Homo sapiens: one gene and its partner. The protein of the gene in region 1 interacts with the protein of each later gene in a pairwise test. Each region holds a gene or a part of one and is shown on either strand. Other genes may lie near its edges. The genes, in order: USP40 and EPB41L1.

Region 1 (4,025 bases):
AAATTGCCATTACAATTTCTAAATGCTTATTCTCCTTTAAATACTTAAAGTCTAGCCTACAGACCAGACTCTGAGCAACATTGCTCAGTCTGCCCCAGCCCTCACCACATCAAGTAAGGCAGGAACTCACTTGGAGCCAGGAGAAAGTGAGGCAGGGTGTGCTGAGAACTCCAGAGCGAGATACAGTATTGTGCCTGGAAAATTTCTACAGAGGGGAAATTGTGTGTATCAGAGGTATTTTAGAGAAATAATGGACTATTAGAAGAGATTCAAACTACTGTCAATCTGTAATCAGTTGAGTGGTTTATTAAGGCCTATTTGAGTTTTAATGTTTGTCTGAACCATATCAAGGTAGAAAACTCCAAATAACTATTATTTTTTAGATTGCATTATAATTTTCACAGAAGAACTGAATCATAATTAGTTTTTCCCTTATAATAGGATATTTATAAACTTTCTCCTGAATGAACTGGGAGATATAAAAAAGCTAGTATGCAGTTGTTTTCAAAAGCCTTAGTCAACACTTAAAGAATTCATTTAGAAATGTGTTTGTTTCTCATTCAGGTTCGAATCATCCCTTTACAGTTACAGCGCTTGTTTGCTCAGCTTCTGCTCTTAGACCAGGAAGCTGCATCCACAGCAGACCTCACTGACAGCTTTGGGTGGACCAGTAATGAGGTACGAGGATCAGCTCTTTAAGGAAGAGTTACCAGCAATAGAGGAAAGAATAAGGCTGGTTTAATGTTATCTAACTTCCTTTAATTTTGTCTTAGGGTCTCAACATATTGTTTGAATGTTTCCTTCTCACATTAAAAAATTACAAGCCAGAAATATATATTTTTAGACACTTGCTGTATACAGGATTTTATGAATGGCTGTGATTTGGGGCTGGGGAGAAGATTGGAAAAACGGGGAGAAGTACAAGAGCTGATTTTTACAATTTCTACCCTAAGAGTCTTTATGTAGTCTAGTTGAGATACAACACCGATTACATGGAGATTACCTACCATTTATATAGGAAACTGTTGATCAGTTTTTTAGTCTTTGACCAACAATAATGGATCAATTACATTGTAAGTAAATTTTTAAAAATTCTTTGTTTGTTATGTGCTTTGTGTTTGAATCCACATGTTCTGATTTGAAGGTTTGCTTCAGTCAAAAAAGTGAAATGGTTCTTGGCAGGTCTTTTTATTCCTGTCCTGACTTTCTCCTGACCTTCTCCATTTTCTTTATGAATCTTGTTGTATGTGGGCTTTCTCTCACTTTCCTGTTTGAGTTCTAAAAGGCATTCTACTGTATACGAACACTACACACTTGTCAGCAATGAGTAAAGGTGCTTGTTGCACATATTGATGAGCTGTTATAGCTATACAAATCCAAACAAATCCCAGTCTACCATTTTTATATGGAATAGATGGATGTAATCCTGCAAAGACAGGTATAGGCAACTGTCACAGAAGTTAAAGAGCAAACGATAGGAATACTGTTATATTGCCTTTAATGGTAAACTCTGAAGGGTAGTCTTCTAACCAGGAACACTTCTTAACTAGGTGATACTAACTATGTGATTAAGGAGGTAAGGCATGGACTTTCAAGCAAAATGGGGTATAATACATTCCCTAAACAAGTATGTTAAATTTCTGGTGTAGGGCTGGTATTTGGCGTTAATCCGATTAACAACAAAAACAAACAAACAAAAAAAACACTGTATTGAGATGTAATTTACATGCCACAGAATTCACTCTTTTAAGTGGTACAGTTCAGTGGTGCTTTCTAGCATATTCACAGAGTTGTTCAACCATCACTACAATCAATTTTAGAAAATTTTTACCACCCCAAAAAGAAACTCCATACCCGTTAGCAGTAACTTTCCATCCCCCTCAACTCAGCCGCTGGCAACCACTGACCTCCTTTCTGTCTCTATGAATTTGCCTATTCTGGACATTTCATAGAAATGGAGTGATCCAATAGGTGGTCTCGTAACAGTCTTCTTTCACTTAAAGTACTGTTCTCAGGGTTCATTCATGTTGTAGTATGTGTCGATACTTCATTCCATTTTATTGCCAAATGAGATTCTATTAGATGGATATGCCACATGTTTTTTGTTTTTTTTTTTTAATCTAGTCATTGGTTGATAGATTTTTCTTTGTTTTTGATAATGAGCTTCACTAAGTTGCTGGTTTCTTCTTAATGCTGTGAAAATTTTTTTTGTTTTTTGTCTAAATAAGATCTTGCAGAAAACCCTCTAGGACTGGACCTGCAGTGGTAGGAGAAGGTCTCTGTGGTACCTTTGCGAAGTGTAGGATTGTTTAGGAACAGAGCTTGAAAACTTCCACAAGTTTTCTATCCCATCATAGCCAGTGATATTAGATAAATTACATCCTTGAGGGTCTTGTATTTTAAAAGGCAAGATAGAAGTCCTCCAGCTTTCATCCACTTTATCTGCTGCTCTTCACACAAAACTTTTTTTTTTTTTTTTTTTTTTTTGAGATGAGGTCTCACTGTCACCAGCCTGGAGTGCAATGGCATGATCATAGCTCACTGCAGCCCTGGGTTCAAGGCATCCTGCTGCCTCGGCCTCCCAGGTAGCTGAGATTTTAGGCATGAGCTATTGCTCTTGGTTGAAACTTATTTTTGAAATTGTCTTCCCTTATTGCCTCTGCTTCTGAACTCTCCATTTGTTCCTCTCCTTCCTTTCTACTTTTTTGGTTGAAGTCAACAGTGACATCCCTGTGCCAAGTCCAGAAGACACTTCTCTGTTCTCAGCAGAAGGAGCTCTCAGCAGCACTCACCACCCTCCTTAAAGCCTCAGCTCCTCCTGCTTCCTGGGGCCTCACTCTCCTGGCCCTCCCCCCAGCTGCTCTTCCTCCTCTTCTCCACTTCTCAGTCTTGGTGTGCCCCTTGGTTTGGTTATAAATTTTTCTTAAGCACAAGTTCACACACAACTGCGTGACTCATAATGGATTAAAGCAAGTTCCATCAGGATTTTTTTCTCAGTAACACTGTGTTAGTCTTGTTTTAGTTGTTTTTACTTCAAAGCAGTACATTCTAGTTCTTTTCTATTGTTGATAATTCGGACTATTCACATGTGCTCTGATCTCAGTGAGGTGTTCCTGTGCAGACACTGCCAGCTCTTAGACACTGGTCTGTGCCTGGTATATCCCTCTCTGCTTTCTGTGGCATGGCCATGTGTGTGGTTTCCCACAAGAATAAATGCACATTCTGGGTGTCAAAGGAATTGAGTTACATGTACACACTGAACCCAGCCTGTTCATATTTTCATTTTTTAGTATAAATAAAAATAGGTGGTAATCTCTTAACCAGCTCAGCTTGTTTTGCTGAGTCATTCTTATATCTGATCTTCAGATTGCTTGATAAATCTTGAGTTTTTATTGACTAATGTTTGTTTTTTTAATGTTTTAAAAAATCTGAAGCCCGGAATTACATCTAAAAGTTACCTGTTTTGTAGGAAATGAGGCAACATGATGTGCAGGAACTGAATCGAATCCTCTTCAGCGCTTTGGAAACTTCTTTAGTTGGGACCTCCGGTCATGACCTCATCTATCGTCTGTACCATGGAACCATTGTTAACCAGATTGTTTGTAAAGAATGTAAGAACGTTAGCGAGAGGCAGGTAAATATGCCAGAGTATTTTAGTAATAAGTTATGTTGTAAATTATAATCCATGTAATTAAATGTATGATATATACCACACAAGGATTAAAGTGTTTATTACTAAAAGTAATTTATTGAGTTTTTTTTTCTTCTAACTACACCTAAATCATGAGCCTATAATCCAGATTTCTCCATGTAGATTGAAAGAAGCAAATATCTTGAAACTTAATCTTTTATTCAGTACCCTAATATTTGGAAAATAGATTTGGGGGATATTTACAAATAGAAGACTGTGGCCTCATGTGAGAAGCCAGTGTCATCATGGTTGGAATATTGTAAAGAAAGTTAATTAGGGAGGTAATAAAAATAGATAATACTGAGGACCAAGGAGTGTTTAATTTGACAAACAT
Region 2 (2,780 bases), on another chromosome or scaffold:
GGGGTGGGGGGCCCTAATGGAGAGGTGTGGGTTTGGCAAGAAAGAAGCAACACAGATGTCGTCCCCAAAATGCCAGTTCAAGACACCTTCTCCCTGCCCCCCTGGTAGTAACAGTCAGGGCCTGGTCTGTGCTCAGGTACTGGGTCCCAGTCTGGGACTCTGCTGCTGAAGTTGCCACAGTAGAGGTCCCTGGCTTAGTCCTTATCTCCCTACGGGGCTTGCCTTGGTTTTCAGTCTTCTCTCTCTTTCTCTCTTTTTTTTTTTTTTGCCACATTCTGCCCTTCCCTGACCCCATTGTAATAACCAACTCCATATCCAAAGGGAGGTGGTGCTCTCAGCCATTGTAGAAGATGGTGGCTTTAACCTGACTGTCTAAAAATTCCCAGCTAAGCCTTTTCCTCTACTCTCTTCCTTGTTCTGAATCATTTCTTCTTCTCAGGCCAAAGTAGCCATGGTAAGGAGGCTTCATGGGGCAGACCCTGAAAGATCAAAACTGCATTTGCAAAGCCCTCCCCTGTCCCAGGACAAAGCTGAGACTGACGGGTGATGTTGCTCATAGGCTCCAGCTCTGCATAAGACCTTGGCTTGGAGACCTCCCTCTCAGTCAACAGCTGAACTCTGAGCTTGTGCCCAGAAATTACCCCAAGACCACAGGAACCCTTCAAGAAGCTCCCATCACAAGCTTGGCATTGCTCTCTGCCACACGTGGGCTTCCTCAGGCTTGTCTGCCACAAGCTACTTCTCTGAGCTCAGAAAGTGCCCCTTGATGAGGGAAAATGTCCCACTGCACTGCGAATTTCTCAGTTCCATTTTACCTCCCAGTCCTCCTTCTAAACCAGTTAATAAATTCATTCCACAAGTATTTACTGATTACCTGCTTGTGCCAGGGACTATTCTCAGGCTGAAGAAGGTGGGAGGGGAGGGCGGAACCTGAGGAGCCACCTGAGCCAGCTTTATATTTCAACCATGGCTGGCCCATCTGAGAGCATCTCCCCACTCTCGCCAACCTATCGGGGCATAGCCCAGGGATGCCCCCAGGCGGCCCAGGTTAGATGCGTCCCTTTGGCTTGTCAGTGATGACATACACCTTAGCTGCTTAGCTGGTGCTGGCCTGAGGCAGGGCAGGAAATCAGAATAGCATTTGCTTCTCTGGGCAAATGGGAAGTTCAGCGGGGCAGCAGAATCAGTGGCATTCCCCCTGGTGCAGGCCGGTGGGTCCACTCCAACTCCCCCTGAGTGTAGCAGCACACTTTCCATACACCAGGTTCTTTCTACAATCCTGGTGGAAAAGCCACAGAACCTTCTTCCTGCCCTTCTTGAGAGTTCCCCCTCTTTCTGGGTCAAGAGCTGGAGTGGTGGCTCCATCCTCTCTGGGCCACTTCGGTCTAGGAACTCATCTTTGCAGGAACCAGGAGTCCTGAGCACACTGAACACACCTCAGAGGGAGGATCCTTGTTGTGGATTTTGCACCTGGCTTTGGGGCAGGGGTGAAGTGACCAGGCTTAGCTTGTGGAGTTTATGGGCCACCAGGGTTTGGGGAAATCACCATCCCGCGGATGCTGTGACCTCCCTTCTACGGAGATGCAGGCAGTGCCACGAGGGAGGAGGGGACCTGCAAAGCTAGAATCTAGGGCACTGTTTCCTCCCCATCCTTCTCTTTGTAGAGAATAGAGACGTTTGTCTTGTCTGTCTTCAACCTACTTTTCCTTTTCTCTTTTTTGTTTCTCATCCTCTCTGTGCCACCTCTCCACCCAGGAGGCCATGTAGCATAGTGGAAAAAGTCCCTGAGGGCGGTTAGGAGTTCTGGGTGACCATCCTGGCTCAGCTCCTAACTCACCATGTGACATCAGGCTATCCCCATTCCCCCTCTTGGGCCTCAGTTTCCCGACTTGCAAAATAAGCAGAAAGAACCAGATGCTCTCCAGGGTCTTTTTCTACTTTGCTATCTCATGGGTCTTCATTTTCTCTTATTTTGTTTTCTCTGGATCTTTTCCATCTGAGGGTACAGGAAGTACCAGGACCTGTTTCAGTTTTTGAATCCTGCAAGCACATTCCAAGACTGGCCTGAAACTGCATGAGCAACATCACTCGAAATAATTTTTTTTTTCAAAAGCACCTTAACAACCAATTGCGATGCTGTCCTGTTCCTTTTTACTCACACCCTTCTCTCCTTTCTCGTCCCCATGCTCCCCCACCTCAGTGCTCCGTGCTGTATGCGTGTGCTCTCTGTTCTTGTATACTCAATATAAGTGAAATAAATGTGTTTGATGCTGAACCATACTTCCTTGGCACCTCTCCTCTCTCTCTCTCTCTCTCTCTCTCTCTCTCTCTCTCTCACTGTCTCTCTCTGACTTTGGCCACTGGTACAAGTTGGCACTGTGGGAGGGGCTAAAACTGAAGTGGAGACATCCCAACTTAGAACATGTTTATGCAACAAATATTTGGAACTCAAGGTGGTCCAGGCCTTGGGTGACTCTCCAGGCACAACACAAACAAGACAAAAGTCCCTGCCCTTCATGAACCCACAGGCTAGTGGAGGAAACAGATGCCAACACAGGCAAACAGTCCGTTACAGAGCACTCAGCACTAGGAAGGAAATACACCGGGAGAAGGGAAGGAGGGTCACTGAAGGAGACCACTTTAAATACAGTGGCCAGGTAAGGCCTCCCTGAGGAGGCGATCTGTGAGCTGAATGAAAAGAAGGATCAATCAACAAAGGCGAGGAACTTTGGTGCACATTCTAGGAGAGGGAACAGTAAGCATACAGGCCCCAGGACGTG

What was found.
Region 2: the proteins of USP40 (region 1) and EPB41L1 interact in a two-hybrid assay, tested with the Homo sapiens proteins (one study listed by BioGRID).

Annotation. Positions count from the first base shown.
Region 1 is NC_000002.12:233,556,464-233,560,488, reverse strand, and holds part of USP40 (ubiquitin carboxyl-terminal hydrolase 40), read left to right. Parts: intron 1-564; coding exon 565-678; intron 679-3,469; coding exon 3,470-3,634; intron 3,635-4,025. UniProt on the Homo sapiens protein: May be catalytically inactive.
Region 2 is NC_000020.11:36,230,520-36,233,299, forward strand, and holds the end of EPB41L1 (band 4.1-like protein 1), read left to right. Parts: 3' UTR 1-2,280; downstream 2,281-2,780. UniProt on the Homo sapiens protein: May function to confer stability and plasticity to neuronal membrane via multiple interactions, including the spectrin-actin-based cytoskeleton, integral membrane channels and membrane-associated guanylate kinases.